Regions from separate parts of the Homo sapiens genome. Here regions 2 and 3 are each linked to region 1. Evidence: fine-mapped expression QTL. A gene starts in region 1. Each other region holds a variant in brackets. All regions are shown on one strand. Distances are between the middles of the regions. Region 1 holds the start of CRISP2 (cysteine rich secretory protein 2). Region 2 has its middle 16 kb from the start of PGK2. Region 3 overlaps CRISP3 (cysteine rich secretory protein 3).

What was found. PIP is the estimated chance that this variant, and not a neighbour inherited with it, causes the effect.
Region 2: its variant is fine-mapped to the expression of CRISP2 in whole blood (TOPMed, PIP 0.95).
Region 3: its variant is fine-mapped to the expression of CRISP2 in whole blood (INTERVAL, PIP above 0.99).

Annotation. Positions count from the first base shown.
Region 1 is chr6:49,709,097-49,717,404 of GRCh38, reverse strand. CRISP2 (cysteine rich secretory protein 2) reads left to right here and starts at 3,862. Exons shown (of 10, transcript NM_003296.4): 1 at 3,862-3,930; 2 at 4,801-4,904; 3 at 6,084-6,120; 4 at 8,200-8,274. The coding sequence starts at 8,209.
Region 2 is chr6:49,799,186-49,807,493 of GRCh38, reverse strand. No RefSeq gene overlaps it. Among named protein-coding and RNA genes, the nearest start is that of PGK2, 16 kb to the right of the region's middle. The variant C/A (reference allele first, on the strand shown) is at 3,144.
Region 3 is chr6:49,731,647-49,739,954 of GRCh38, reverse strand. It overlaps CRISP3 (cysteine rich secretory protein 3), which reads left to right. Exons shown (of 8, transcript NM_006061.4): 2 at 2,557-2,630; 3 at 3,448-3,564; 4 at 4,364-4,451; 5 at 6,107-6,252; 6 at 6,663-6,760. Among named protein-coding and RNA genes, the nearest start is that of CRISP3, 8.6 kb to the left of the region's middle. The variant A/C (reference allele first, on the strand shown) is at 3,122.

The sequences.
Region 1 (8,308 bases):
GGCAACAAGAGTGACTGCTGGTCGTCCTCACTGCTACACTTCCACAAGGGTTGTGACAGTTTACAAATGCCATGGCAATGTCACGAAGTTACCCTATATGGTCTACAAAGGGGAGACATGAAAAATCCACCCTTTGTTTCGTATATAATCAGAATAACCATAAAAATTGGCAACCAGCAGCCCTTGGGGCTGCTCTGCCTATGGAGTAGCCATTCTTTCCTCTAACAATTTGACCTTTTGACTTGGGGTTTTATATGTTGGCATACTTCCAGGGTCTTGCATTACTCTTCCCTTGGATTAGGCCATCTGCATGTGCAGTAGCCTGCTAGCACTTGGGAGCAGCCTCATGCACAGTGTGTTTAATGGAGTTGTACACATGCTCACTTGAGAAATTTTTTCTGTACCAATACAGTGTTTCTAGAAGAAGTGTTTCCCCTTGATTTAGTTCTAGAAAGTCCTTTCGTTCTCTGCCTCTAGGCCCTATTCTCCTGCCTCAATTTCCCCCTGAAAGATGTGATCTCCATAAGTCTTTATGGGAGGTGGAACAACCGATGGTCTTTCTTCTGTAAATGCTTTATGACTGGTGTGGGGATCACAGACCTCTTGCCTTGCTCTCTCTAGTGAAGGAAGGGTAGCTCCTTGATGGCCAGGGGAGGCATCTTCACCTGGAACTGGCTGGAACCCTTGTCACATGATCATCTAAAGCTTAATCGTCTCTAGGCGAGAGGAAATGAATTGGGTTAAAGATTTAATGGGAATTTTAGGGGGTGGATACCTATTCTTTCAGCAATGTTTGTTATGGAAATTTGCAGGAGAAAAACAAAACCTGGTCTTTTCTAGGATCTATGTGTTTCCTTAATGTCTTAGCACAAGCGACTCTGTTTTGGTTTGGTTTGGTTTGGTCTTTTGGGGCCTAGTGCATGAACTCAGTCCAAAACAATTGCCTCCTATGCTTTTGCTTAAAAAGAAAATTCCCCCCTTTTTGATAAGGTTCTCACTTAGGTGAGAGTGTGACCAAAACTTAGGGCCTTAGCACCACTCTCAGTTACCATTATTTCGGGTTTCTGGTCTCACCACATCATTCATAGGTTATGGTGTCCTCATGGTCACACATTTCTTTCAGCTCTTGTCATTCTAATTGAAGAGAGACCATTTGACATTCTAGCAATGGCTGCGTGGAAGCACTTAAAACCTTTGAGAGAATACAGTGTACCAGGGAAACTATTATTATGACTATCGGGAGGATAATACCAAGAGTTTGGAGTATGCTCTTTACCCAGGTTACCCATAAACCAAACCACCTAAAATTAAATAGATCAAAAAATGAGCTAAAGAGTCTACTTACTTAACTAAGCAATCTCTTCATTTATCCTCTACAGCTAAATCTCTATAGTCTTCATCTGATGTATTTCTCCATAGGCCACAAGTGCCAGCAGCTGCACAGATACTTCTCTATTCAGCCAATTCTATCATAATTTTCACAAGAGAATTTAAAGTCTGGTATTTAACTATATCCTATACAGTAGAATCTGCTATAGAGCCTACTATGAGGAATGCATTTCTAATCATTGCTTCTTTTACTCCAAACCATAGAAAAAGGAACTAACAAATGATGCCCTTCTAGAAAAGCAAAGGACTCCTGGCAATGTTCTTAGAAGTACCTGTACTATTCCTCTCAGTAATGGAGATCTACTTTCCATGTGCTCTCCAACACATTCAGGCACCAAACTTACAAGTCTTCTATTCTGGATTTGCCCTTCATACAAAATCTATCAACACTTTTTAAAAATCTCTTCATATTCCACCCTTTTGTCCTATTTCTACTACTACAAAATTAATCTGGGGAATTGTTACCACACTTATTTTTGCTGCCATCAATTTCTCAGCTCTGTAAATCACCCCATGCAGTGAGATCAGGTGGCTTTTATGAAACATTCTTTTGATCAAAGAATTTCCCAACCCTCCAAAATGTCAATGAAATTACTTTCCCATGTTATACAGAGAAGCAAATCTCCTTAGACTTCTATACAAAGTTTCCCCAACCTTTTCAACAGTCTTTCTGTCTTGAATATGCCTTGTGATATAATGATTTATCTGCTTTTGTTCTTCAACTCTTTCTCCCTTCAAATCAAGCCATACGCATTATTCAATAACAGTTCAAATGTCAAAACTTTCCTAGGTTTTACCCAGATCATATCAACTCACAGAACTCTCAATTACTGTATATATTTTTGGTCGCCCTACTTAGCATTAAACTACACTACCTAATAGTATTCTTTACTTATTCATATACATACTCCTTTCTCTCATAGTACTATGAGTCTTAGAAGAAAGAGATTTTATGTCCTTTTTTCTGTATTTTCTAAGAATCTATGTCGGGTCAATATTTACTCACTTAACAAATATTTACAAACTACCACCTATATTTGGTATTGTGTTAGTTTTGGAGATACAGCAATAATCAAGACAGACATAGCCAATTTCTGAAATTCAGGTTCACCAACAATATCTGGCACCACAGCGCTCAAGTTGCTCTCATTCTGATATCATCAATGTGAATATGGGAACAAGTAATAATTACAGGAATGACTCTTCTCCAAAAATGAAAAATAAGATATTCACAGTAAATGATAGACTATTATAGTGCTGAGAATGAATTGTTCGGCACTAGAAAGAAAGAACAAATAGGTAGGCAGAGATTTTGTGCATATAGGTATTTGAAATGTCCAATTAATAACTTAAGCAAGATATGGTGAAAACATGAATATAGAAGTGAGGGACAGATTGAGGACTAGATTTCATAAATATTTAGAAAGGCAAACTGTCAGTAATGAATTTTGATATTGGATGTAGATATAAGCGTTAAGCAGTCTAAATTCCAAAATTTTTAGTCAGTGCTGCATGAACTGAAATAAGCAGCAAAAGAAAACTAAAACAATGTCTGTGTGCTGATCCCTTGAAATTACCTTGTAACACTGCCAAAGGAAAATGGCACTGAGCACCAAGTTTGTTATAGTTTCAGTTGTGCCCAAGTGAGTCTCCAGAGTTGGTGAAATCTCAAGCCTCTTATTGCATGGCTTACAGAGAACCAAGGTATGACGGATATTAATCCTTGGCTTGACATCTTTTGACCCATCTCTCTTCCTCTAGGTCATAAGCGAATTCACTCCTTTTCGCTTTGAAAACAACTGTGAATAGAAGAAAATGCACCTATTACTCATCCGCCTTCTGAGAGAGAAAACATGTCTTTAACCCATGCTTGATACGTATGCTAAACTTGCAGCCAGTAGCCTTGGGTCAGGAGTTCTGCGTATTTTCATAAGAGTTGTTCCTGTTACTCTTCGTGAATTTTCTCACCATAAAACTGTTGCCAACGGGGAAGAGGGACAAGAACATGAAGTGTTTATGAGGGAGCCTGAAACTGACAACCTGTGTAACTGGAGTGCGTCGTTGGCATGACACTGGCAGCGCACTGCAAACTTAAGCACCTGTGGACTCCTAATTAGCTCTTTAAATTGAACTACATTAATTCAGGCATTCTTGTTTGAATGCGAACGCCTCCTTTTTCAAGCCACCCCCTGGGCAACCCGAATCCTTATATGACCTCCCTCCTCCTCCTAGTACGGCGCAGGTATGCGAACAGACATTTTCTTTCCTCATCAACTGGTGGTAATGAGAAAAAGAGAACTCTGCTTTTCACAAGGGAAAACGTGCAAGATTTTCTCCGTAGTAGGGGAGGCGGGGGCGATGGGAGGAGAGCAGCTCACGTAGGCAGATAGCGGCGATGAAAGCATAAAGCCCAGTGACGTCGCCCACACGTGGCGCCTGGCAAGTGAACAATCGCGGTGAGAGGGGCGCGCCGCAGCTCCTCAACGCCGCAACGCGCCGGCCCAACTGCAGGAAGGTCTGTGCTCTGGAGCCAGGGTAAATGTAAGACCCGGATTGGAGACTAGAAATGGCTAGGGACGGGGAGGTGGGGTGAAGCACAGGGGAGAGAACCATCGTTGAGGTGAGGGGGTTTCTGATCCTCCTTCGCTCCTCTTCCGGCATCTGGAGGGCACATAGCTAATGCCGGGCAGACTGAGAGTTCAATTTTGTTGCTTAGCGCCGACCTACCATAACTTTCAACATGCTTCTCTATGTTTAGTCTATTGAAACTCTTTACCTACCTTAAAAGAGAAATCATTCTAAGTACATAAGACCCATTGAATCATAGTAGAAGCCTGAAGTCATTTCTCAATCTGCTTTTTACGAAGTCAAATTAAGACTCTTAGTTTCTAATTGATGTTTTGAATGTACAGTTATTAGAAACTGTAATAACAATTAGAGTTGGGGTCATTGACTCTGCTGGACTTTATATCATCTATTGGCTTCCAGAATTTAAAAAAAAAATGAAGAGACAAAGCTGTTACCCCCAAATCCACGTAGTTAATACTTACCATGTGGGACACTGCTTATGGAAATGATCTTTTAAAGAATGGGTTGAAGTCCTAGATAAGGGGTTGGGAGTCTTGAAAAAAGGTTGCAATTTTCCAAGCAAGTTAGCCAACTAGTAGTTACTGAACTTCAAGAAGTCCACTTTTTTGTTAGTGTTTGAAGGAAATATCAGGGCGTTGAAATACAATCTGACCTCAGAAGGACAATATGGTCTTAACGCTGAAATCAAATAAATACAGTAAATTATTAGAAACAATACTAAACAATTGAGTCAAAATTTAAGTTTGTGACAAAGATTATAGATACCATCTATAAGGGTATTCTTCACATCTTTATTTTAAATATTTTGTTTCCTTGTTCTAGGGTTATAAAATTATACACCATGGCCCTCCTAAAGACACTCTAGGAAAACCATGTCATCCTGATCTTAAAACACCTGCAAGAAAGAGCACAGTACTTCACCATTAGTAAGTAGCAAAGAAAAAAAATGGTAGCCAACTTTTCAACTATATATCAATATGGGTTTAAAGGAATAAAATGTAATTATATGGAATAGAAAAAAATATTTTTCCTTGAATATACTCTCACCAACAGTGACATTGCTTTCATTGACTCAATGAAGATGAGTATAGGTTAGATGGTTGAGGTTATGAGAGAGAAGAGCAGCAAAGAGGAGAGTATGGCATCATGGCCTATTATAGAATTCTGGCTCATCAGATGCATACACTGGGTGATTGAGCTATACAAAACTCTTCAGGCTCCTGTGTATGGCTTTCAATGAGCTGATGAGGATACAACAGCCCAGATGTTAGAGCATTTTCCTAAAGTCAGCCAGAAGGTGTCTAATAGAACCAGGCCTTGAACATGTGAATCTCGAATTAGATTATACTGATTGTATTTTCCTATAACACCTGGAAGGAAACACATGTCTCTTAAACACTTAGTAATTAGCAATTCAATCAAACAGCATATGTTTATAGAAAGCTCTTATGAGCTCAACAAACTAGCAGACATTGCAAAAGATAATAAAAACATGAATAATTTCCGTTTATTTGTATTATGTGCATAATGTGTTTATTGTATTAGAGGTGTTACATACATTGTCCCTTCCAGTCTTCAAAGCAAAAACCTGTGATATAAAAATCTACATTTTACATAAGAAAAACACTGAAGCTTGGCATAGATTTCCCAGACCTGATGGTTTCCAAAGAATGCACCCGTAACCAATAAGCTACAGGTAGTTGATAATTAGAAAGTAAAAATCATAGACAGCTGAACTATGAGAGTTCAGCTATAAGGCAGAATCCTGGTAACCTTCACAGTAGTTAACCTGTCTTGGGTTGTCAATATAGAAATACTAGTCCAAAAAGGCCACATGCAGATTATCGTGTGCCTAAGGAGAAGGGAGAACTGATTAGAAAGGGAGGGCATGATTTACTTACTCATGTTAAAAACTATGTGGGAAGCAAATAATGTCAAAAGCATTATCAGACAACTGACAATGAAGTTTAAGGTTACTGGTATGAAAAATACTACTTCAGAACTTTGTTGACTTAGATTTATTTAACAAAACCAGAGTTTGACAAAACAGGAATATGTGTAATATATATGCTGCTCTAAACCTTCCACCTTCTTTCTTTCTAAAGATAAAGTAGATATTTCATCCTGCTCAGAAAACCAACAGTAAGTGTTAAATCATTGATTTTAATGTGAATATTTTATCATGCCAATCATTTTTATGTTGTCAAGGGTAAAATGATTAATGAGTTTGCCCATGATTTTATTTTTTTGTTTTTTGTTTGTCTGTTTGTTTGTTTGTTTTAGAGACAGGGTCTCTTTCTGTCACCCAGGCTGGAATGCAGTGCTGTGATCATAGTTCACTGCTGCCTCAAACTCCTAGGCTCAAATGATCATCCCACCTCAGCCTCCTGAGTAGCTGGGACTACAGGCACTTGCCACCATGCCCAGCTAATTATGTTTTGTTTTTGTTTGTTTGTTTTTAGTAGAGATGAGGTCTCACTGTGCTTTCCAGGCTGATCTTGAACTCCTGGGCTCAAGTTATGTGCTCTCACCTCAGTCTCCCAAAATGTTAGGATTATAGGAATGAGCCACTGTGCCTGGCCTATCCATGATTTTCAAAACTTTAATAAATTTGTATTGAGAATGACCTCAAGTTAATTTTATTCTTTTACAGTTAAGAAGGTAAATTACAGCAATATTACGCACACACACAAAAAAATTTGATATGTAAAAATTTTTTACATTTTATTCTAAAAATAAGTAATGGAATTAATTCTCATGTTTGTGACTTGAGACAATTATACTAGAACTACCTTTAATAGGAAAATGGAAAAGTATGGCTGTTTAAGTATATTGTATAAGCTGGCATATTAATGATTTTACTATTAACATATACAGTTATGTATTAATAAGGGAATTATTAAAGTAAAAATAAAGGGTCTCCATTGTGCTGCAACAATGTCTGCCTTTTCCCAATTAAAACTGTGTCTCTTTCAATGAGTCAATGTCTCTTTCAAAGTCATTGACTTCGAAGTCATAATTGGATGAAGACTAATTTCTGACATTACCTAAGAACGTAGCATTGGCATAGGTTAATTAACTGTCTTAAGCCTCAATTACATCATCCATACAATATAAATAGTAATACCCAGTAAGGTATGGGAGTGAAATTGTATATCATTTTCCATGAACCGTCAATAATTGTTCATCCCTCATCCCTTTTTTGCACATAATTGAGCATAAAGGCAATGGATGGAACAAGTATCAATGATACACTATTTACAGTAAGTGAAGCCTGAGAAGCATCACAGATAAATTGTTCGGAATTTTCTTTCTTTCCAAGAATTTGGGAGTGACAGTCTCACACACAAGAAACAAATCTAGGCAGCATAACTTTAATTTACAAATTAAACAATTTATATGACTAATGACAGAAAGGTGAGTGTTTCCAAAACTAAGTGGTCTTGTTGTTTCATCTGAAGGACGTGAGACTTTTTGACATATTGAGAAAGGACAACATGGGTAACAAAATGCTGAGTGTCTTTTTAGGAGATAATGAAAATACGAAACAATCTTCTTACCAAATAATGGATTGAGTAAACTTGAATAAGCTATATCTTCAATGCATTAATTGTATTTTTTGTATACAGAGAAATTTGAAAATATTCACAAGTATAAGGAAGAAAATAAACATAACTTCTAGTTACTCCATTAGGGAAATAACAGCTAATAAAGTATTTGCACAACCATATCTGTGTAATCACAACCTTGTCATCTTAATTAGAGTCTGGTATAAATAAAAGGACAAACCGTTTTACTTTTCGTATAGAATAGCCAATTGAGAGATGGTACATATTGAAAATAAACTTTCCTCCAAAAATTGAGATGAAGAATGAATGTCAGTACTATAATTAACTATTAAGGAATCTATTTTCTTTTTGATGGCGTAAGGGTAGCAGAAGTAGGCAGAAAGAAGGGAGTAGGTCTCTCTCTTTTATAGATGTACCTCAAGGGCATCAGTAGAGTTCTTCAGCTTTTTCTTTATTGTCACTATCAAAGACAAGGTTGGCCTCATTATGATTCTACTAGTACCATAGGGCAATTCTTCTTTTGTTCCATTGTTAATGAATCTGGGAATCACAGTTCCTTTGAGATAATCGAGATCATTATATTGGTATTCCCCCTCTTAGAAGTTTTTTAAACTACATATTTCAATGCAGACCTTTGTTTTTCTTGACTTAGTTTCCAGCAATGGCTTTACTACCGGTGTTGTTTCTGGTTACTGTGCTGCTTCCATCTTTACCTGCAGAAGGAAAGGTAAGGTTAAAATGGAAAATCTTTTCAGAGCTAT
Region 2 (8,308 bases), 90 kb before region 1:
TCAGGAGCTCTTACAAGGCAGGCCTGGTGGTGATGGACTTCCTCAGCATTTGCTTGTCTGAAAACAATCTTATTTCTCCTTCACTTAGGAAGCTTAGTTTGGCCAGACACAAAATTCTGGGTTGGACATTCTTTTACTTCAGAATGTTGAATATTGGCCCCCAATCTCTTCTGGCTTACAGAGTTTCTGCTGAGAGGTCTGCTGTTAGTCTGATGGGTTTCCGTTTGTAGGTGACCTAGCCTTTCTCTTTGGCTGCCCTTAACATTTTTTCTTTCATTTCAACCGTGGAGAATCTGAGAATTAGGTGTCTTGGGGTTGATCTCATGGAGTATCTTACCGGACTTCTCTGGATTTCCTGAATTTGAATGTTGGCCTGTCTTGCTAGGTTGAAGTCCTCCTGGATGATATCCTGAAGTATGTTTTCCAACTTGGTTTTGTTCTCCCCGTCTCTTTCAGGTACTCCAATCAGTCATAGGTTTTTTTTTTTTTTTTTTTTTTTACATAATCTCATATTTCTCAGAGGTTTTGTTCATGTCTTTTCATTCTTTTTTCTCTATTCTTTTCTGCTTGTCTTATTTCAGAAAGACAGTCTTCAAGCTCTGAGATTCTTTCCTCCACCTGGCCTATTTGGCTGTTGATACTTATGATTGCACTGGGAAGTTTTGTTGTGTTTTTCTGCTCCATCAGGTCATTTATATTCCTCCCTAAACTGGCTATTCTGGTTATCATCTCCTGTAATTTTATATCATTATTATTAGCTTCTTTCCATTGGGTTAGAACATGCTCCTTTAGCCCAGTGAAGTTCATTATTACCCACAGTCTGAAGCCTATTTCTGTCAATTCAGCCATCTCAGCCTCAGCCTAGTTCTGTGCCCTTGCTGAAGAGGTGCTGTGATCATCTGGAGGAGAAGAGGCACTCTGGCTTTTTGAATTTTCAGCATTTTTATATTGATTCTTTCTCATCTTTGTGGGCTTATCTGTCTTTGATCTTTAAGGTTGCTGACCTTTGAATGGGGTTTTTGTGGTGTCTTTTTTGTTGATGCTGCTATTGTTGATTTCTATTTGTTTGTTTTTCTTTTAGCAGTCAGACTTCTCTTCTGCCTCTTCTGTAGGGTTGCTGTGGTTGGCTGGGGGCCCACTCCAGGCTTTAATCACCCGGGTATCCCCTGCACCTGGAGGTATTACCAGTGAAGCTGCAAAAGAGTACAGATGGCAGCCTGTTCCTTCCTCCCAGAGCTCCATCTCAGAGGGGCACCATCCGATGCCGCCCCGAATGCTATTACAAGAAGTGCCTGGAGATCCCTGTTGGGAGGTCTCACTCAGTCAGAAAGCATGAGATCAGGGACCCACTTAAAGAAGCAGTCTGGCAGCCCATTGGTGGAGTAGGTATGCTGCGCTGGGGGAAAGCCCCCTCCTCCAGACCACCTGAACTCTCCAGATCCAGCAGTCAGGAAAGGGTAAGTCACTGAACTGTGAAGACCACGGCCACCCCTCCCCTGAGGGACTCCACCGAGAAAGATCAGAGTTCTTTCCATGAAACATTGGCTGGAGTTACTAAAATTATTGAAGGGAGGCCCTGCCCATTGAGGAGGGATGGATTGGGGTCTCACTTAAAGAAGCAGTCTGGGCCTGGCGTGGTGGCTCACGCCTGTAATTCCACCACTTTGGGAGGCCAAGGTGGGTGGATCACAAGGTCAGGAGTTCAAGACCAGCCTGGCCAATATGGTGAAACCCTGTCTCTATTAAAAATACAAAAATTAGCTGGGTGTGGTGGCGGGCACCTGTAGTCCCAGCTACTCGGGAGGCTGAAGCAGAAGAATGGCTTGAATCCTGGAAGTGGAAGTTGCAGTGAGCCAAGATAGTGCCACTGCACTCCAGCCTGGGCAACAGAGTGAGACTCCAACAACAACAAAAAAAAGAAGCAGTCTGGCCATGATCTGCCACAGCAGCTGCGCTCTGCTCTGGGGAATTGCTCCTGGTTTGGACCACCCAGACTCCCTGGAGCTGGCAGGCCAAAACAGCAAACTCAGGCTGCAAAGATAGCAGCTGCCCCTCCTCCAGGGAACTCGAACATCTCATGCAGTATCCAGCCTGCTGCCTCTGGCCAGCTGGAATTCCAAGCCAGTGGGTCTTAACTTGGGAGCAGGGCCTGCTGAACAACGCCACTTGGCTCCCAGACTTCAGCCCCTTTCCTAGGGAAATGGACAGATCTGCCTCACCAGAATTCCAGGGGCCTGAGTTTGCAAAAATTCCTGGGTCTCTGTGTGTGCCTGAGCAACTGCCAAGAGTCTGCCCAGCTCTGTGCTTTGGACCTAATGCCCTGGTGGTATGGGCTCACAAGGGGATCTCTTCATCCACGGGCTGAAAAGATCCATGAGAAACATGTGGTTTCCTGGCCCGGGTCAAACAATCACTCACCACCTCCCTTAGCTAGGGGTAGGGGTTCCCCTGATTCCATGACACTCCTGGGTGGACCATCACCCCACCCTACTTTTCCTCACTCTCTGTGGATCATGTGACCACCTAGTCAGTCCCAAAGCCAGAACCTGGTTAACCCAGTTACCTCAGTTGAAGGTGTAGAATTCACTCGAAATTTTCATTCTTCTCCATGAGAGCTGCAGACTACAGCTGCTTCTAAGCAGCTGTCTTCCAGAATATTTTTTTTTTTCAAGACGGAGTATTGCTCTGTCGCCCAGGCTGGAGTGAAGTGGCGCGATCTCAGCTCACTGCAACTTCCGCCTCCTGGGTTCCAACGATTCTCCTGCCTCAGCCTTCCGAGTACCTGGGATTACAGGCACACGCCACCACGCCCAGCTAATTTTTGTATTTTTAGTAGAGACAGGGTTTCACCATGTTGGCCAGGCTGGTCTGGAACTCCTGACCTCATGATTCAACTGCCTCGGCCTCCCAAAGTGCTGGGATTACAGGCATGAGCCACCGCACCCAGCCCAGAACATTTTTTTACTGCATATTTTTCTGAATATTTTAAGCCCACTGTTGAGACGGAATACTGACAAAATAATATTGCTTTCAAAATGTTACTGGTCATTGACAATGCACCTGGTTACCCAAGAGCTCTGATGGAGTTGTACAAGGAGATTAATACTGTTTTCATGCCTACTAACACAACACCAATTCTGCAA[C/A]CCATGGATCAAGGAGTAATTTTAATTTTCAAGTCTTATTATTTAAGAAATACATTTTGTAAAGCTATAGCTGCCATAGACAGTGATTTCTTTGATTGATCTGGGTACAAATTACCTCCCCCATAAGAGAAAGATTCAAGTTGCTTCAAAAATTAAAATAATTTGTGAGAACGTGTATTAGTGTGTTCTCACACTGCTAATAAAGACATACCCGAGACTGGGTAATTTATAAAGGAAAGAGGTTTAAATGGCTCAAAGTTCCACATGGCCAGGGACACCTCACAATCATGGTGGAAGGCAAAGGAGGAGCAAAGTCACCTCTTGCATGGTGGCAGGCAAAAAGAGCCTGTGCAGGGGAACTTCCCTTTATGAAACCATCAAATCTTGTGAGACTTATTCACTGTCACGAGAACAACATGGGAAAGAACCAACCCCATGATTCAATTACCTCCCAATGGATCCCTGCCATGACATGTGGGAATTTTGGGAGCTATAATGCAAGATGAGATTTGGGTGGGGACACAGCCAACCCATATCAGAATCCAAATGTGATTAATATGGTACATAGCTCACATATCTCAAAAATGTGAGACAAACTAATATTTCCCACTCCCCTCTTTATGACCACAGCCTTTCAATCATGGAGTATTTCAGCAGCACAGAAATCTCATGGCATATGCCAGGATTACTGTCAGGGGGAGGAAACAGACTACAACCCTCTCAACTCCAGCCTCTACCCCTTCTCTGTGGCAGTGTTATTTTCAGCATATTATTATAGATTAAACCACATAGTAGATTACACTGCAAAACTTTAAAGATATTGAAAATCAATTAAATATGATTAATTATAAAACATAAAATGTTTATGCATGTAAACATTATAAAATTATTAAAAAGTATAAAACATGGTTTTTATTATGGAGACTGCTATTGGATATATTACAACTGTAATTAAACATTAACCCTAGACTAATGAAAAGATTTGTTTTATGAAAACTCAGTAATTGGTTGCCCTAGTCATAATCTTTTATGTCCTACTGAAAGCTTTTCTTTTTTTTTTTTTGAGATGGAGTCTTGCTCCATCACCCAGGCTGGAGTGCAGTGACATGATCTCAGCTCACTGCAAGCTCCGCCTCCCGGGTTCATGCCATTCTCCTGCCTCTGCCTCCCGAGTAGCTGGAATTACAGGTGCCCGCCAGCACGCCCAGCTAATTTTTTATATTTTTAGTAGAGACAGGGTTTCACCGTGTTAGCCAGGATGGTCTTGATCTCCTGACCTCGTGATCCGCCCACCTCGGCCTCCCAAAGTGCTGGGATTACAGGCATCAGCCACCGCGCCTGGCTGTCCTACTGAAAGTTTTGAGCTCTGTAAAAACACAAAGTCAAAAAGGAAAATAAGACTCCTGTCTATTGCAAGACAATTATGCAGGCATATAGAAGTTATTTTTCAATTTTTAAGGACCTCTTGTAAGGCAAATATAGTGGTAACAAATTTTCTTAACATTTTCTTGTCTGAAAAGGATCTTATTTCTCCTTTGCTTACGAAGTTTAGTTTGTCTGGATGTGAAATTCTTGGTTGGAACTTCTTTTTTTAAGAATGTTGACTAGGCTCCCAATCTCTTCTGGCATGTAGGGTTTCTGCTGAAGGTTCTGCTGTTAGCATAAGGTCCCTGTGTAGGTGACCTGCCCCTTCTTTCTAGCTGCCTTTATAGCAATGTGGATGGAGCTAGAGGCCATTATCCTAAGCAAACTAATGCAGGAACAGAAAAACAAATACTGCAGGCTCTCACTTTGAAGTGGGATCTAAACATTGAGTACTCATGGAACAAAGAAGGGAACAAGAAACACTGAGGCCTACTTAAGGGTGGAGGGTTGGAAGAAGGTGAAGAATGAAAAGCCACCTATTGGGCATCATGCTTATTACCTGGGTGATAAAATAATCTGTACTGCAAAACTCCATGACATGCAATTTACCTATATAACAAACCTGCACATGCACTCCTGAACCTAAAATAAAAGCTTAAAAAAAGACAGAGCAAAGGAATAAATGATGCTTTAAAAAGACTAATGAGCTATCAATGGCAATCTAAAATAAATCCTAAGGCGTTAATTTAAAAAAAAATAAAAATTTTTTAGAATGCAAATTTTTTTTAAAACTTTACATTAATAGCTTTAAATGGGATATTAATTGTTTCATTAAAAGTAAGTATTCATACTTACTAAAGGATTAGTCTATTTTGTTCCTAAAATAATTGATTAAATTTGCTTATATTAATATAGATTATTGGTCATCTCAGCACCCAGAATTCTGTACATAGGATAATGAAAGGTATATTTTACATATATTGCCAACAGAAAAGTGAAACCAAGACAAATTGAACAAAATTTTCCATGTCTTCTTACTAGAATGAATAGTAGATTCTATTCATATCTGTAACTCACTTCATTGCCAGGCGCGTCCTGATTTCAGAGAAGTTAAAATTTGAAAAAAACAAAGTGTGTCTGAAATATGCCTGTATTAGTCTATTTTCATGCTACTGATAAACACCTACCCAAGACTGGGAAGAAAAAGAGGTTTAATTGGACTTACAGTTCCACATGGCTGGGGAGGCCTCAGAATCATGGCGGGAGGCGAAAGGCACTTCTTATGTGTCAGCAGCAAGAGAAAATGAGGAAGAAGCAAAAGTGGAAACCCTTGATAAACCCAACAGATCGCGTAAGACTTATTTACTATTGTGAGAATAGAATGGGAAAGAACGGCCCCCATGATTCAATTACCTCCCCATGGGTCCCCCCAACAACACGTAGGAATTCTGGGAGATACAATTCAAGTTGAGATTTGCTGAAGACACAGCCAAAACATATCACTCCACCCCGGCCCCTCCAAATTTCATGTGCTCACATTTCCAAACCAAACCAACCATGCCTCCCCAGTTTTTGTTTTGTTTTGTTTTGTTTTTTTGGAGACAGTCTCGCTCTGTCACCCAGGCTGGAGTGCAGTGCCGTGATCTTGGCTCACTGCAACCTCTGCCTCCTGTGTTTAAGCAATTCTCCTGCTTCAGCCTCTCTAGTAGCTGGGACTACAGGAGCATACTGCCACACCTGGCTGATTTTTTATATTTTAGTAGAGATGGGGTTTCACCCTGTTGCCCAGGCTGGTCTTGAACTCCTGAGCTCAGGAAATCCACCAGCCTAGGCCTCCCAAAGTGCTGGGATTACAGGTGTGAGCCACTGCATCCAGCCCACAGCCTTAACTCATTTTAGCATTAACCCAAAAGTCCACAGTCCAAAGTCTCATCTGAGACAAGGCAATATTATAAAAATCAAATTATGATTTAAAACAACAATAAATACTCTAAAAACTGTGATGATTACTTATCTGGACAATTAACTTTACTAGAATTTTTAGTCATGCTTAGTTTTCCAAACTTATTGATTTGTTCTGCACTTAAATTTCCTCCTATTTGAATAAAATTACCCATAGTTGGTCTTTTGTTTTTATTTATTTTTTAAAAAGCTTCTTTTGTCTCCCAGTGAGACAAAAATTCTGATATTCTTTATGATTTGAACTACTTTTAATTAACTCTCCTATTTAAATTATACATTAGCTAGATATAAAATTTAGGTTAAAAATTGTTTTTGCTAACTGTGGAAATGTTTGTATTTAATTCAGTTTTTTAATTTTTAATTTTTGTCAGTACATAGTAAGTGTGTATATTTGTGGGATACATGAGATGTTTTGATACAGGCATGCAATGTGAAATAATCACATCATGGAGAATGGAGTGTCCATCCCCTCAAGCATTTATGAAATAATCACATCATGGAGAATGGAGTGTCCATCCCCTCAAGCATGTATCATTTGTGTTACAAACAATACAATTACACTCTTTTATAATGGTTATTCTAAAATGTAAAATTAAGTTATTGACTATAGTTACCCTGTTGTGGGATCTCAATCTGAATCTTTTCCCTTGCAGTGATCTGCTTTTCTATCTTGGAAACTTAAGAAAACTATATGTTCTCGGTGTTAATGTTCCTAAAATGTATTGTAGTGTTTCTAGAGTGTGAATTTGTTTCAAATATTGGCTATTCTGCATATCATGTTATGAACACTTTGAACCTGAGATCTGATTTTTTATTCCATTATATGATGTTATTTGTTAAAACCTTAATCATCTTCATTTTATATATTTTCTCTTTTTATGCCTTCTCTGTGATTGATATTAATATTGTTACAAATTTTAATTTCCTCACACCTTAACTTTGTCCTCATTCACTTTCTCTTGGCCCTTTTCTGGTGTGTTATGCAAGAATTAATCCACAAATTATCTGATCACTCATTCATTATTTTAAAAGCTTTTATTTTACCATGCAATCTATCCATTTAAGTTACATATTTCAACATTTTTTGTATCCAATATGTTGAAGTGGTTATGCTTTATAACGGCTTCATTGTCCTTCATATTTCCATTGTAATTATTTAAGACTTTTTTCATTTATTTAAATCTTGTGTTAAGCTATGAATTTTGCTTCCTTAGATATATTTTGTTATCGGTTAGCTTTCACTCATAATGCTGAAGCTCCTCAGACATGTTGAATTTTTCTCCTTATAAATACCTTTATTGTCTTTATTACCAATCTGCAGGGTAAGCCAAGCCTCAAGTGCTAACTAAATTTATGTGTGTGTATTGAAATTGGAGGAAAATATACATTGAAAGAGCCTCTTATGATATAGTGCATGATTTCCTGCTCCCTGTTCCCACTTCCAGCAGATATTGTCTGTCCTCCAGGAAATATTACAGTATGTCTACTTCAATAGCTTCTTTCCTAGATTATCAGCTGAGAGCTAGAGCCTGCCAGACCTAAGCATAATTATTGTTCTTGGGGCTTCACCCCAGCCTGGCTCCAGTATCGCCTCTGTAGAACTCTACAATTGGAACAATAAAAGAAAGAGAGATTTCAAACTGGTCCCCAAAGCACTGGTTTCAAGCTTTTTATCCAAGATTCTTTCTCTTTCATCTCTTTTATTTGTCTTTTCCCTTTTTTAGTTTCTCTTTCTTCAATTTTGTCTTTTCACTTTTTTAGTTTCTTTCTCTTTTTTCTCTTTTATTTGTCTTTTCACTTTTTTTCTTTTTTCCTTTTTTCTTGACACTTTATTTTAC
Region 3 (8,308 bases), 23 kb before region 1:
GAACAGAACAGAAAACCATATAAAAGGTAGGACTCAGTGACTTACACATAGCAAAATAACTCTTTCAAGTGAAATGAATTAAGAGAAATCTACTGCTTATTTCCAAGGAATAGTAGAAAATAATGTATAACTAATACACTTAGAAATTGCTTCATGGAAGTGAATGACAGGAGAGGCTATTTTTTTTTCATTCTTTCTAGTACCTTCTATGTGACGCTACTACTAAATGGAATTGCAAACAAATCATTTTCCACTTGCACCTGCTATTTACAGTAGTCCCTTGGGAGGAGAGGTGGGGATGGAGTGAAATATTACAGCGACTCTCTGTCACCATTATTGGTCTTAAAGCTGATGTTACATCTTTATCATATTTATCTCATTCAAGTTGTTTACTCCCTGAGCCCTGAATTGTGCTAGATTCTTCCCCATCTCTCTCCATAAAGCATTGGAATGGATCACTGTAAAAGGAAATAAAATTTTACTCTCCTCTTTTGCACACATGAGAAAATTCAACCAGCTCCCCCTCTGGGTACTTGAATGATGAGCTCCCGTAATTATATACCAGGACTCTGAGGGCAAGAACCAAGTCTTGTTCACTTGATCATGTGCAGCAATATTATAACATGTTATCCTGAATAGAGTGTACAAAACTTGATAAATGTCTCCTAAAGGAAAGAAGAATACCTAATTGTCTTTGACTTACAAATGAAAATAAGAATCTGTTTTTCCTCTTTTGCTCTCAAATTCTGCAGGAGACGCACTAGAGGGCCCATCTCTAAATACAGCACACTAGGAGTTAGGGCATCAACATATTGATTTAGAAGTGGAAGCAGGGCCAGGTTAAGTTATTTCTGAGTGAGTTTCAAGGTCTATAACACTAGTAGTTTGAAATCTTCTGGAGCTCCAGATCTGCATTCTGGCAACATCATTTTTCGTGGATTCTTTTTTTTTTTCAGACTTCAAGTGTATTTATTAATGCATTGGACAAAATAAAACCACACTTGTTATCAAAAGTATATCTCCCCTGCTCCCATTTTCTTGTTCTTCCATTGGAAATATCTTTGAAAAAGTGATACAAATGGATACCAGCAAAGTCCCATATTTGCGGGGTGATTGTGGGGCGATGCTGGGACGAGATGGTTTGTGACATTGACTTTAATAGCATGAAAATGGGTTTTGCAAGTGTATATCAGGCTGCATCCCAATACTTAGATTCACAGTGGGCGGGGTGGTGGGGTGCAGAGGTGCTGGTTAGGAGAAGGAAAGCTGAATTTAGTGCTGGGAACCAGTCTGGGGTGGAAAGCTCTTCCTCTGGGAGTTCTGTGGGGATTTGGTGTTAGCTAAGTTCATAGTCTAAGGGAGACCCAGTCCCAGCCCCCAGAGCTGAGGTTCAGGAGGAACCAGTGAATAACTAAGAAGGAAGAGCTTTTGTAGGATGAGTCACTACTTCTATTAACGTTCAGTCCAAATCAGAAGGCTAAGGATCTACCATATACTATTTGTTCTGCTTTCTTGTTTTTAAACTTAACACTGAAGCATAAGCTTCTTCTCTGAGGTTACAAAACAACCATAAATGTATAGTGGTTTTTATGTCTAATATACTGCCATAAGAGGATGTATTCTCATTTACTTAGACATTATATCTCCCTATTGCTAGGCATGTAATTAATTTACAATGTTTTAACCCTTATAAATGATAACATGATGAAAATTTTATGCTTAAAACTTTTTAGTATAGTTTATAATTTCAGTAGAATTCTAAGAAGTTGAATTAGTGAGATAAAGAATGTGAACATATTAAGGATATTAATACAGATAGGGTGAGTAATCCCTTAAACATGAGAATCAAATTATTACCTTTTTGTTTTAAGATCCAGAGGAAAAAAATGTTGCCTTTTTAAATTTGAGGCATGGTATTAAAGAAAGTTTTGAGAGGAAAGGAGTTAGGATGCTGGCTGCATGGGTAAACTTGAAGAGAGTAGTTTAAAGGTATGCATAAAAAGCATATACGTAGAGGACTTTCTAGGGTTTGAAGAATGGCAAGTATATGAGCCAGATCCCTGACGGAAAAGAACTGGCACATGCTAACTTTTAATTTGAAGAAATGTTAATAAGGTTATATTTATAAAAGTGTAGACAGCACTTAAGGAAATCAGCAAGGGCTAATGCAGTAGTATCCCAGTAATAAACACAGTTGGAAGCTACTGAATTGTTATTGTGAAGAATCCACTCCTACAACCTAAAGACAGTAGTTACACAGAGAAGACTGCGGAGCTGCGGAAGAAGGAGGTAGAAAGTCCTTAGCATTTATAGGCATGCTTCAAGGGCTTCAGTCGGGAATTTTGGTTTGTTCTTTATAGTCCCAGTTGAATGCATACTTTGAAAGCTGAATCCACTGTCATTCTGCTGGCTCCATGTGACAAGTCTTCTCCTGTTACATTAATAATGAATTTGGGATAATGGAGGTCATTACGTTTCTCCCACCCCCATGTTACTCAACAGCATGTACCAATCATTTTAATGCAGATCCCTGTTCCACCGGTTTTGTTTTCCCAGCAATGACATTATTCCCAGTGCTGTTGTTCCTGGTTGCTGGGCTGCTTCCATCTTTTCCAGCAAATGAAGATAAGGTATGGTTGAAGTCAAAAATCTTCAGAAAAATTCAGGCAACCATGAGGGATGGCAAGCTACTAGATCAATCTTCAAAAGTGAAAAGGTCTAGAGTGTCTGGTACATCATAAAGTACTCATTAGTAGCTCAAGGTAGTTAACATAATTATGTTTAAAGCTGTGGTGATCAATATGGTAGCCCCTAGCCACATGAGGGTATTGAAGTTCATTAATTAAATGACTTTGCTCCACCCCGCAAATTGCCTTGGAGATTTTTTTTAATGTGGTAAAACTATCTTTTGAGTGATCCCATAATATTTGCTACGTAATACATAAAACTCTTTTACTAGAGTATTGCATGTTACACATGCACTTAGGCTGAGCCTAAGCATTTTTTCTAAATACCAGACACCATTTCAGGCAGAAATTCCCCCTAGAGTCTTAGGGTAAATCATATGCCTCAATCTTTACAACTTCTTTGCTGCAGCCTGAGTGTGAATGTCTTAATAATT[A/C]CTATCATGTACCCTTGTCACTATAAGATGTTATCACTCATATATTTAGAAAAATCACATTAAGACCTCTCTTAACCCAGAAATTGGTATTTGTGGCCTCAGAGGAGATTTTAGTTTGTCATGCCATGAATTATATCCCCATTCTGAAAACTTTCATCTAATACTTTTCCATTAAAAAGTCATAGCTTTGGCAGTCATTGACAATGTTTACCTAGCATTGGCAACACTTTTTAAAAATGGTCTTTGTTCCCTTGAACTAACATAGTTACTATTATGTGCAATTTCCAACAATGTTAAAAGATAATTGTAATTTTATTTTCCCTTAGGATCCCGCTTTTACTGCTTTGTTAACCACCCAAACACAAGTGCAAAGGGAGATTGTGAATAAGCACAATGAACTGAGGAGAGCAGTATCTCCCCCTGCCAGAAACATGCTGAAGATGGTAAGAGGTGATATTGCAAAGGAGAGGGGTGTGAACAAGCTGTGGAAGGAGTAGGCGGCTGGCAACTAATATCTCTTAATAACTTTGAAGTTTACAAAGTTCTCTCTGTATTTTTTTGTTTCATTTGAGCTGTGTAATGGGCAGAGCTGAATTTCTTAACTTCTCTTTATAATGGTTGCATAACGTCAAATTCATAGGGCTATTTAAATTATGGAGGCAGAATTAAAACCTAATCTTTGGACATACGGTGAAAAGCCATTATGTTTTTCTGCTCCTTATCTTATCTGTCCTAATCTGAGATCAGAAAGACCTTTTCCTTTTAAGATAAATGCCATGTAGGGTAAATAACAATCTACTTTTCTGGGCCCTGTACCAAAGGCCACATGTCTCCCGAACATATTCAGTGAGGGGGAAAAAAAGAAAAAAAGAACTGGAAATGAAGTAAGCCAGCTAATTACTTCATTGTTGGAAAAGCAATCTCAGCACCTCCACATGTTTATCAATATTTAGAACAGGACCATTACAAAAAATCTTTAGGTGTTTCTGATGTCCTGTGATAAATAATTGGACCATAAACCTAGATTTTTTGATTACTTAGGGTAGGCATATTACCTATATTTCTTTGTGGAGCAGATAAAAGCACATAAAAAATATATACATTTGATTACTATAAAAATCAGAAGATGCTTGTACAGAAATTTTATGATGATGTAAATCAACCTATAACCTGATTATAAAGCTTATGCTCCTTTGAGGTTTGAGACATTAAGTGGATATCTTTTTTCTGTCCTTGTTTCAGGAATGGAACAAAGAGGCTGCAGCAAATGCCCAAAAGTGGGCAAACCAGTGCAATTACAGACACAGTAACCCAAAGGATCGAATGACAAGTATGTAAATTAGGAAATATTTGTTGAATAAATCAACAAGTAAAATAATAAACCATGTTATGATGTTGCATTAAGAAAAGTTTGTAAATAAATATTGCTTCTAATGCTACCTTTTTCAATATGGACTATCTACATGTAGAGATAACTCTGAGAAGCACCATCTGTGCTTACTGTTTTAAATAAATTTTACAAAAACCGTCTCACACAGTATCATATTTTTACCTCTCAATCAGCTCAGGAGTAAAGCAGGTTACAGATCATCTCTTTCCCAATTACAGAGATTAGAAAATCAACAGCCTGGAAGAAAATGATGATTGGCAATTAATGTCATATATAGGAAATTTGGAATTAGAATTTCTGGCTTCTAAATCAGTACCCTTTTTAGTGACAATATGCAGCCTATTTGTGTTTTGAAACCTACTTAATTTTTTTTCTATAAAATATTTTAAATTTTGTCAAACTGTTCCTGAATTTTATGAAAAACGTATTTAACATTAGCATTAACTTTTATTATTTTCTTTTGAATTTTTGATGACAGTAAGCCATGTCTTTTATATTTTCTGGATGTTTACAATGCATACTATATTAAACTAAAAAAATGACCTGCAAGACATAACCTATACATCAATAAATATAAAAACAATTAGATAAAATATCATATGGATGAGCTATCAGATAAAATACTTATTAAATTATCAAAAATAACATAGGTAAAGGCAAACCAAATTTACAAGTGGTAAATAACTGGCTTGTTTTGAAAATAGGACAGCCACTGTTATCTATATTTTTGATATAAAACTATAATAAATTTATGAAAGGGGGTAACTATGGTCACGAGAAGATTGAAAGAAATGGTCTTGAAAATCCCAATCTATTGTTAAAATCTTAGCTTCTTTCTTTCCCTCTCAAAGGAGCTATACAAAGGTAGTTTATACTCTCTTTAAGTAGCATGTAGACATTCCTTGTTAAGCCATCCAAATATAAATATTAATTTTAGGGCTTGAAAAAGTGTTGAAGTATTTCTGGGCTGCAAGGCACTTTTTTCCTTATTTTTTGACCAGAGTGTGGCCTGTGATGTTCTGATTTGCTAAGAGGAGGCCTGTAACCTGTGAAAATATTGTCTTTTATGGTGTCATTTGCTTCATGTTTAGGGCTCTTAAAGACTGAGCATAAGACTTTTTAAAAAATTCACACAAAATAATAATTCTAACCACTTATTCAGATTCCTATATATGAAAATCTCTGGTGAGTATGGGCTAGAGCAGGAGAGGAATTACTAAGTTGATCTCTGTCTTCAGCAAGCTCACATTACAAAGCTGAAAGCTCATAAGGCACACACATGTGAAGAATTCAATGTGTAAATAAATGAATCCAGGGAGAGCAGACATTAAAGAAAAAAGGCTTCTCCATCTACTCAAAGTTTTGCATGTTGAGACCAGCCTCAAGTATTGGGCAAATCTGGCTTCTATTCAGCTTATAGCTGATAAGGATCTGAGGCACCCTCCTTATGTATTAGTCAATATTCATTAACGGTGGGTACTGGGGACTGTATTTAAAAAACAGGGATTCTGCTGTGTGTAGTGTGTGTGTGTTTGTGTGTATTTTGCCATTGCATGCTTTATTGCTTTCCTCATGAGTGGTCTGTTCCTTCTTAGGTCTAAAATGTGGTGAGAATCTCTACATGTCAAGTGCCTCCAGCTCATGGTCACAAGCAATCCAAAGCTGGTTTGATGAGTACAATGATTTTGACTTTGGTGTAGGGCCAAAGACTCCCAACGCAGTGGTTGGACATTATACACAGGTAAGGAGAAGAAATGAAAAACCATCTCCTTTATAAGTGCCCTAAAAAAAAAGGATTCTTCAAATTTTGACTGATTCCAAGTTGAATTTGGGGAAAATTTCAAGTGAATATAGAATAGTCTGGCATTTGGTGAGTATTTCAGCTGTGAACTGTCATTTTTCAGTAGACTGCAGGATCATGGTAGGGAAGCATAATCTTTGTCCAACGGTCTCAAAAAGGAATGTACATGGAAATGTAATATTTTAAAGTGTTTTAGTTTGATTCAATAATTTAACTAAATATAGCCATAAGGTATATGAAAACAAAATATGTCGGTAACATTCTTCTCCATTTTGTATTTCCTACTATTTGTTTTTTGGTATTTCCTTCTTCTCTAATGTGCTCTCATATCTTCACTTATTGGTTTATAGGTTGTTTGGTACTCTTCATACCTCGTTGGATGTGGAAATGCCTACTGTCCCAATCAAAAAGTTCTAAAATACTACTATGTTTGCCAATATTGTCCTGCGTAAGTATATATTTTAGCGTTTATTGTCAATAATGCTAAATACAATTTAACATTTAATAAAAAAAAACTAAAAAGCATATTTAAGTAAAGGTGAAGGAGATTAATCTTTAGAAATGTTTTCTAAAGTTGAGACACATTCAACCAACTTCTCAGAAAGATAAAGTTTTCAGTTCCAGTTCCAAGTATTATTGAACAGGGAGCTGTCTTTCCTCATGCCTAAAATAATTTGTCTCCTCTCTCAATTGCCTTTTGCTATGCTCACGGTTACTTCATAAGTACATGTAGTGTGTAGTTATCTAAATATAATTTTATCAGTTCATGCTAAGTTTACACACGAGAAACTGGAAGCTTGATAATTAGTCCAGGGATAAAGTAAGGTAACAAACAAATAAGGAATGACCCATTTTAGCAATATCAGTCCTTTCTGCTCAAATGCTCTTACTCCTGCTTATCAGAAAATTTCACATTATACATTAAGAAATGATTAAATCTTGGACCTCAAAGACTTTTAAGAGATCCCCAATATATTTCAAATAGCCAAGAAAAGATAATGTCTTAAATTTTTGCTTCTTAGAATTTACCACAAAAAAAATTTCATGGAACCTTCCATTAAGATCCTAATTTCTTAATTATCTCGGGTTTTCTGCAGAAAGTCCACTTTTTTTTCTCAAGCAATATAGTTGACCTACTCACGAAAAAAAATCTGTGGATATATTGAAGATATATTCACAACATATCTATTAGCTTTAATTTCCTTTTAATATTTGAAGTTGTTCACCACTAGTGGGAGGGGTTTTCCCCAAACTCAGCTTTCTGCATGGCTTATTTTGAGGCTGTAGATATCCCAGGTGATGTAGGATTCCAGTCTGAGAAATATGACCTGTAAGGTCATTTTTCAGCAAAGAATTATCATTGTTAATACAGAAAATTGAAAGACCCTGGGAGACTGCCTCCAAATGCCTGGTCATTAGAGGAGAGCATCTGGAGTCAGCATCTGAAGTGAGAGTTGGAATTAGTAATGAGAGAAAACAGGGAAAAGAGAACTTCCAGAACACTTTGATATCTATTTCACATTTTCTTAAGTGCTCACACACCAACAGCTATATTCTGTGAAGAAAGGCTGAGATTCAGCTACATAGCCTTGGACCGTTAGCCTACTTAGTGCAATTAAGACTTTGACTTTCTTGTATTTTCAGATGATAATTACCGATAGGAAAATAATCATCAATGATGTACAGGCTAGTCACTGTAAGATGAACACACAGAGGAGATTAGTATTAATTAAATCTTTTTTTCCCTAACATTCCCATTCTTGGCAAACATAAACATCTCATACACACCACCTGTAGACATTCCCAAACCTTTCCAAGCCCAATACCCTTTCACAAACATACAGCAAAAACCATGTGAAAATCACCACTCCACCTAGAAGCCAAAATTTACGCTGAAACTGTACTTACCCTACCTCATATTGTAGAAATTATGGTTTTTTTTTATTTTTAATTATAAGTTACATTTAACATTAAATGTTATTTTTCATATTGCAAC